Homo sapiens: one gene and its partner. The protein of the gene in region 1 interacts with the protein of each later gene in a pairwise test. Each region holds a gene or a part of one and is shown on either strand. Other genes may lie near its edges. The genes, in order: CD164 and NBPF19.

The links.
Region 2: the proteins of CD164 (region 1) and NBPF19 interact in a two-hybrid assay, tested with the Homo sapiens proteins (one large-scale study listed by BioGRID).

Annotation. Positions count from the first base shown.
Region 1 is NC_000006.12:109,379,474-109,383,979, forward strand, and holds the start of CD164 (sialomucin core protein 24 isoform 1 precursor), read right to left. Parts: upstream 2,995-4,506; 5' UTR 2,906-2,994; coding exon 2,731-2,905; intron 2,267-2,730; exon of another isoform or gene 2,104-2,266; coding exon of another isoform or gene 2,031-2,103; intron 190-2,030; coding exon 106-189; intron 1-105.
Region 2 is NC_000001.11:149,473,673-149,478,109, reverse strand, and holds the start of NBPF19 (NBPF family member NBPF19), read right to left. Parts: upstream 3,066-4,437; 5' UTR 2,315-3,065; intron 2,213-2,314; 5' UTR 2,178-2,212; coding exon 2,003-2,177; intron 166-2,002; coding exon 63-165; intron 1-62.

The DNA of each region.
Region 1 (4,506 bases):
TAGTGCACAATATCCTAAATGTCCTACATAACTTTCAAGTGTTCAAGAATTACTGTATTTTAAAATGCTATAACAAAACAGTTTTGCATCCCCAAAGTTTCTTACCTTTACATTCTATCCAAAAGCAGGTAGTATTAACAACGCTAACATTAAAACAGGAAACGCAGCTGTTTCGACCTTCACAGGTTTCTGGGGAGTTGGGGGGAGAGATGCATGAAATCAATGATTTTATTAGTATCTTATTTGAATCTGTATTACTTATCTTTTTGAACAATAAGCATTACATACAGCATCAAAATTACTAATTCAGATAAATGATAAAACTTTATACTGGTTTACTAAGAAATTCCAATCATTACAAAGCTGTAAGTAAACGCATTAGAAAAACAAGCTAGTGGTCACTCTCAGTACAGTGCCTGATGGTATCTGTCTAACCAATCCTTTTTCACAGGACAACTATTGGAAGACACCCACAGCCACTAAGGATTTAGGCATTTCAAAGCATCCTTAATACATAAAAATATCGAGAAAAAGGCTTTGATATAATACCAACACTACACATAGGAAAACCACTACCCCCAAACATCAGATAAAACCCTGAGATTTTTAGTAGTAACAGTAGTAGTTTAACAGGTTGAACCCAAGCACTGATGATGCCCATTCTGCTGCAAACAAAGATAATTTCCCAGGGATTCTCGATTCATAAATGATCCACTCTCGACAGGATCCTCCACAACTGGAGACAACATCTAAAAGCCCATATTCAAGTGCATACAATTCAGGTTAACAAGGTATTTGTCAATAGTTCATCCTAGGCCAAACAATCCAGAAACAAGTACTCATCACCATAATTCAATTTCTGGAGAAGAACGGACTATAAAATTGGGCTCTATTTTCCAGTGAGAAAAAGCAGCAAAATAAAAGAAAAAAAAGAATTGGGCTCCATTCATTTTCCTAGAAACTAGATGCCTCCAAACATTCTCGTTTGCTTTGCTCCTGCCTAAAAAATAGTTCTGCAGAGGCACTGCTTTCAATACTTCATCATTAGTACTTATTAAAGACTGGGACATGTACGGTGGGGTGGGGAAGGGTTCATAAAGTAAAAATAAATTTTCTGAAGTTTGTATAGATAAAACATGCTGTTTAAAAACCTTTGTGCTTGACGGGTGTAGCAAAGTGAAATGTCTGAAATGTTCTTTACAATGAACTAAACTTGCTACCTTTCAGACCACACTACATCCACTTATGATTTCCAGAAAATACATACCTCCTTTGCACGCACTTCAATTACACAAAGACAAATTAATTTGATACTTCCAACCTTCTCTTACACACACACTACAATTCTGAAAGGAAACTGTCAAATTAAGACTGAGACAAACATATTCTGCTCTATCATCTTAAAATAGTGCGGTTAGAATTCCCAGTATTATACTGCAATTTACTTCCCTCGTTTTGAAATGTTACCATTACATCTTCCTTAAACTAAAAACAAAACATTAAGTTTACTATATACTTTATTAAACTTTTATAAAATACTAAAACTAGAGGAGAATTTGTAGAATATGAATGCCGTGATAAAAATCATTACACTTCGGCATTCTTCGGTCAAGAAGCCAATGTTAACTACGTAAACATTACTCCTTAACTAATGTTAACTAGAATAACCAATCATACGAGACTGCAGGTTTTAAACCTCTAGTGTTTCTCCCGCTTATTACCTCAAACTTATCTTCCTTCTCTCTTTTGTGTTGTCACGGTATATGGCAATTTCTGCTTTAAAATGTATGTATGCCTTAACCAGCCCTATGCGACTGCACATAACAAAAGACACGCTCCTGATCGGGTTTTAGAAAACCCACAGACCTGGGCACAAACCCCCGTTCCACGACCTACTAAACATACGCTATCTGAGCACAGGACATAGTTAAGAAAATTTTAAAAACAATTGAAAAAAGAATAAACATACAATGTCAGGAGAGTTTACTCATCTCCGTCTCTGCATCTACCTCCTAGGTTTCACTACCTACCTTCCAGTTTAGCCTTAGGATACGTACGCAAAACACCCGGTACATACATGGGTACTTTTCTTCCTTTTCGCATACTTTGAAGTGTGAAGTTTTCACTAACTACGTGCTCAAACGTCAGCTACATTCTATTCCTATCTGCAAAACCAATGTAATTAAATCTCAAGCGACCTTCTCAGACTCAAGTCTGAGACACGAACGAGCATTACCGTCTTTAAGTTTCTCTTTCCCGGACTTCCGGAGAAGGCTACCTCCGGAGAGAGGCGCCGGGAGGGTGAACAACCAGTGGCAGGGAGAGGCAGCTCGGCCCCACCGCCAACCTCAGAGGCGCGACGCCCGGCCCCATCCTCAACCCCACCGCTGCCCCCGCGGAAGGAAGCCACGTCCCCATTTCCGACCCCAAGTGAGGCTAGGAATTACGATGCACTTTTAAAAGGCACCTCGACTTGCAACACTTCGAGGGGGGCCCCAGCCCCGCAGCCACTGGGAACCGCGCGTCCGCTTCCCCCCAGCGCGCTCCCCACCCGGCCCGGCCACGAGTGGACTCCAGGCTGGCCGCCATGTTGCCGGAGTCGCCGCCGCACCCCGAGCGCGGCCCGCCCGCCCGACCGTGGCCCGAACCCGGGCCCCGCCCGCACGGCGAGGAGGCAGTGCGGCTCGGCTGGGCAGGGGAGGGCGGGAAGCCCACAGGGCCCGCGCCCACCTGGTGCCGGAGTGGTGACCAGCGGGAGGGACGTCACCGGCGCCGAGGTTACGTTGGAGATGGGCGCTAAAGTCGTCACGTTCGGGTGCTGGGTCGTGTTCTTGTCCGCGGACAGCACGCAGAGCACGCCCAGGCAGGTGGCGGCCCAAAGCAGTGAGCGGGAGAGCCGCGACATCGTGTCCTCAGCGCTGGCGTTCGGGAGAAAGCTAAGGCTCGCAACGCTCAGTCAACCCCTCAATCCCCTGCGGCGCCGCCTCCGAGACTACGCTCCCCCGCGGGAGCGCGCAGGGGTCACGTGAGAGGCCCCTGTTTTCGGCGTGCGGGGGCGAAGAGGAGGGAGGTGGGGCTCGGACGATACCAACGGGAATCCTACGGGGGGAAGCAGGGGAGTCGGGAGGAAGCCGAAGGAACCTGGCCCTCAAAGCGACTGTGCCACAGCCAAGAAAACTGGGAGCTTCTGCAAATCGTTCTTCTTGCCCTCAGATTACCAGACACGACGCAGCTGGACTTGTCTCATGCCTGCGATAGGGACGGCCCCCACCCTGACTTGCATGGAACAGTCGACATAATGTGGCCTACTGCTTCCACCTGAGCGCCCCGCCAGGCTGTAATTCCGCGGGCCCACGTGACCTCCGGGGCCGCGCCTTCCGGACGCAACTCCACTGGGGCGGAAGTTGGTTTTGTGCGGCTCTCAAGAACTAAGTTTGTGCTGTGCTGCGGGATCCCCAGGGAGCTTCCTTATATCTTCGGCAGGACCCCTTCTTTTTTTCTTGAAGATTGATTTTGCTAGAAGTTATCCTGTGATGGGACTCCCTAGGGGAATGGAGGCACCACGTGGTTAAGGAGTTTGTGCGTTGCCGCCCACATAGTGTGGGCAGCTGAGGCGCCGCCCGGATCAGAGCCGCAGGGCGTCTACTCTGTCACTTTCCCAACCTGACTTTTCCGGATTGCTATTTCAGACGGCGGTTGCAGCAGCCGACCTGTCTCAACTCCACCACTGTAGTCAGAGAATCAAAAGCGGTCTGAGTTGCGAGGTCATTGGGGAGGCCCCCACCCCCACATTACCAGTGAGGAAACTGAGACTTAAAAAAGTGACCTGACCTGGACACGGGATTGCCTGACATCAGAGCTGGATTCTTAAGTTCCTGTTAGTGTTAAGGCGCTGCTCAGACTTTTAGTAAAGGTGAGCGCCATCTACTGCCAAGTCTCACAAAATATTCGCAAAATTTGATACGGTTATCACATGGTAAAAATTAGACTTTAAAAGTTGTATTTAATGCTGTGTTTTCAGCTGTTGTACACTTATGTAATTTTAATTATGCAAAGTTATCCTAATAATATAGGAATATTAATTGCTTTCGTGAGGTCTGTCTTGATGTGCCACGATGACTTTTTTGATGTGCCAAAAAAGATGACTACATAGTGCTTTTACCTTTTTGCTCAAATAGAAAGATTTTATTTCCCCTTGGGATCTTTTCAGTGTCGTCCTTCTGTACCCTCAGGACTATGAACATTTGTTCCAATGACTACGCTAGTTGGAGTAGTGTTGCTTGGATGTAAACAAAAAGCTGATAGTTTTGACTGATCCAGCCCAGAAGCATGAGAATGCTGTCAGGGAAGTGAGCTCCCACCATAAGCCCTTCAGAGAAGTGTCTGCTCTTCTCTCAGGAGGCCTCTCTCTATATTTAACACTTGACTATCTGGCACCCAGACCAAATGAAAGCGCAAGGCAACTTTAATTTTTTTTTAAGGTTAAGAATGTAAATAGGGGCCGGA
Region 2 (4,437 bases), on another chromosome or scaffold:
CTGCTGTACTTCAGAGATCTACACACCTACCCGCCTGCCCTCCCCCCACGGGGTCCCCTCACCTGAGCTCCTCAGCTTGCTTCAGCTGCTCTGCAAGCTTCTCCTCCTTGAACTGTCGCTCATTCCTCAGCATAAATTTTATGAGGTCTTTACACTCTTCATACTCTGAGAAAAGACAGACACGCCTGCCTCAGTGGAAGGCTGGACATGCTGCTGTGGTCACTGCCTACAGGGCAGGAGCCAGGTCCATCCCAAGGACAAAACTCTCCCCAGTACCAGGGTCTAGACAGGGATTTCCACATCTTTATTCTTCAGTCTCCTGACTTTCTGGCATCTGATCCTCCAAAATTTAAAGACGAAGAAAGAGAAACTCAAGGGCGCATCAAGGAAGTTGACAAGATGATTCAACCACAACGAAGTGGAGTCAGAACTCACAGCCCCTGAGGTCTGACTCTGAATGCGGGGCCACTTTCCCAAGTCTTGCAGCCTCTCCTCTAAAACACTGCACTGGGGCATGAAGTAGTGATTTCTTGTACAGTCGGGAAGGCCCCTAGGACTATGGGACTGATGGTTTCCCTTTTACTGGGTATTTCAAGGACAAATATGTCAAGGACTTTAAAAATATTTCATTTTTAAATCAATATTCAGATATGGTTTTAAGAATCATATCTGAAGCATAAAGTGTGAGATATAAGACAATAAGGCCATGAAGGAAATATGCCCAAATACTTTATTAGTATGAGAGGCAGCATTAAGATTTAGATTAGTTGTGTTAATTTAGAAACAGCATTAGTTTGTGTTAATTTAGAAACATCAGAATGAAGAACTAATAGATAGTGTTTCCACTGTGCCAATTAATGTTCAAGGAGATTGACAGGAAATACCTCATGTAATTCATTGCAGCAATTTACAGAGGTAGGTATTATTGTAGTACCCTCTGAACAGATGAGGAAACTGAGGGACAGACAAGACAAGCAACTTGGATGGAGCCCAGGAGACAGGCTGAGGGTCCCTGCTTTGCACACTGCACTGCTGCTTCCACACATTCTCCGGTGTGATCTTTCCTCTTTAGGAACAAGAGCCTGTGCACCAGGAAGCAGGACTTCACTCTCACCAAGGTACTCTCTGCTTTTTATTTTTATTTTTGATTTATTTATCTTTTTGTTTGTTTGTTTTTTGACGAGTCTTGCCCCGTCACCCATGCTGGAGTGCAATAGTGCAATCTTGGCTCACTGCAACATCTGCCTGCTGGGTTCAAAGGATTCTTCTGCCTCAGCCTCCCGATTAGTGGTGATTACAGTTGCCCGCCACGATGCCCATCTACTTTTTGTATTTTTAGTGGAGATGGGGTTTCTCCATGTTGCCCAGGCTAGTCTCAAACTGCTGACCTCGTGCTCTGCCCGCCTCAGCCTCCCAAAGTGCTGAGATTATAGGAGTGAGCCACGTTGCACGGCCCCTACTCCCTGCTCTTGATGCTGTCACTTATAGATAGCACAGGTTCTATTAGGAGCAGACTCCCCTTGAAGCCCCTCAGAGCAGGTACTGGCTACTATCACCAAGTTCCCCTCAGAGTCACTAGAACAGAGCTTTGCCTGTTGGGCCTCAACAGAAACTTGAACTGAATAAAAGTTCACTAGTCCTAGACATTTAGAACAACAGACTAGATGTTATTTGTCTGCAGGATCTTATATGGTACAGAGAGGATTCTTAAAAACATGATTGAGCCCCTTGGAGAAAACAGGTCATTCTGTGCCTGTGTTAGAAATCAATAACTGTGAGTTTAACTCTAGTTCCACCCCCATCTGATTGCAAACATGGAAAGTTGCTAAATACTTTGGCACCTCTGTCTTCCAACTTTAACAAAATGTTAAAATACCCATTTCTGTTTTCCTAGAAGTACAGGAAGGATGAAATTATTTTTGATGGAGAGAGCATTTAGTGTCTCAGAGAGAAGACAGGATATCATTCATCACTTTCATGATGGTGAGCCTATAGATCTTACTGTATTTCTTCTGTCGGTTGGCCAGGAAGCCGGCCAGTTGAGTTAGAAAACATTTCTCTTTGAGGTTTCTGAACTGCTGTTTCTTCTCTGCCAGCTGGGGGCGCAATGTCTCGTTGATTTCTAGAATGTTCATCTCTGCCTTCTCACTGGACCAAGGGCCGGCTGATACCACCATGCTGACGTTTGTGGCAGAAGAGGTGGAGTCAGGGACTGGGGAGAAGAAACCCAAACATATGATGGGTTAAAAACTGGTGAAATCAAATCGGTTTAATCAGGACTGAGGGATGTCAGTAACTGAAATTCTTAACTTACTGTTGTGAAAAATGTGATCACTCCCCACAGCACTTTAGGATCCTTCACCACAAAAACAAGGTTCGAGGTGCCTCAACTCAGAGCTGAAAGCACTGCCAGTAGCTCAGACTCTGATAAGAGTGAGGCAGAATGTGGCCAGCGTGCCAGGTAACCGTCTGCAGTTGCAATAACAGAATTAGAAGGTGGGGGTGTCATGGAATCTTAGGAGCTCTGCATTCCAATTGCCCAGGCTTTGCTGAAACACAGGCACCCTACTTTCACCTGAGGGTCACCACCAATGGGGATCATTCCTTCAGCATTCACTCTCAGTATTCGTGTACCCTTGTGACAATGCCACAGACCCATGTCTTTCCCAATACATCTAAGCATATTCCTCACTGTTTATCTCTTGTCTGTACAACATCATCAAGGCAGAAACAGTTTCCCAACAGGTTATATTTTCTTAATGGTAGTCATGAAGTCACCCCACCTGCTCTCAGTTAAAACAGAGCTTAAGGCTTTTCCACAGGTGTAAGATATCAAACTTTTAGCCTGCCCTGATATCCTCTGGGTCTTCTGCAGTTTTTTCTGTATCCACTAGAAAGTGAATGAATAATTCATTTTTTTAAAATATTTTCTTTCCTGTCTCAGTATTCTTGCTGCTGCATCCCATTGTTAGATTGATTTCCTCTTTCTTACTGGGGCACCTTCTTGGGTTTTCATTACATTCTAGACCAGTTTGACATCCCTACGTCCAAAGCTCTTCCTCTATGTGGGTTGATTTGTTTTTTAATGTCACTGAGCACTACATTTTATACTTGTCACTTATAGATGTCATTCTAGTGCCACAAGACCTCTTTTCAAGGTATCAAGTGATCAAAGTCATTTATATAGAGGTCTCCTGAAAACATGTGTGACCATCTATCTTGGGAAGTTTTGTAAACCTGATGCTATTTTGTTGTTTCCATTTTGTTTTCCCATATACTGAAAAGAACAGGGCCACGAGCAGTTCTTATGGAATATGGTTTGATATATATTTTGTTGAGATGACCTAACACCATTGATTTTGGGTTGCATTCCACTAACAGAACATGGCAAGATCAAGGTTATGGTCAGGGTTGGTTGGCGATCCTCAGTGTTGCTGTGCAGTAGAAGGTGAGTTTGAGGTGAGAGGAACAAGTAGGAAAGAGTGATCCCCTGAACCACCTCTTCGCTTTCTCAGCTTTCATCCCCACCTAGGTTTTGTGAGCCTGGAACTTGAGAGACTGTTCTGTAGCCCAGGTCTCCTAAGATTGGCTGCTGGACTTGCCTGAGTTGAGGGTGCAGTGGGTTGACCCTGGGCTGCCCAGCATTCATGTGGAAGTGAAGGAAGGAGGACTGGTTAATCCCATTTGAAAGCATCCCTCTCTGCAGCCCGCACCATCTTCCAGTGACACTGTAAGGATACTGCTTTGAGATGTATCAAAGGCTTTAAGTCAATGTATTTTCTAGGGTCTGGGAGACCTGACATTCTGTGTCAGAATGAAAATCTGTCAAGTTTCTAAATGAAAAAACTGCAGGTTCACAAAGTGTCATGGGTTACTTGAGGTCACAAAGGGATGAGTTTTCAGCACTGCCAATAAAAGCAATCACAATAATTATTCAGTAATTATTCATAGGATCCATACAATCCAGTAAATATTCACATATTTAGTAATTATTCATTGACCAATTCGTACAAGGCATTTTGCTCAAAACTGTGTTTATATTTGGACATTGTATCTTCATCATAATCCTTAAGGTAATGCTATTATCTATAAGTAACAGATAAGAAACCTGAAGATGAGGGACAGCTAATCACGTATTTGGCCATATTTCCATTTTTTGGTTTTTGTGATGCTGGAAGAATGACCAGAATGGGTCACGGGAAGAGTATTCATTCCTGTATTATTTTCCAGGACAGAGGTGTGCCCTTCTAGAGTACTGGGACCAAAATTCAGAAGTGTCTGAAACCTTGCTTTAACAGTATGGGAAATAACCTCTATCACCTGGAATTTCCCTGGAACTTTGGAATATACAAGAGAAGTATGAGACGTGGGTCTTCCCTTGGCTGTGTTTAATTCACTCTTCTATGGAATACCAATGATTCTCACTAAGACTTTTGC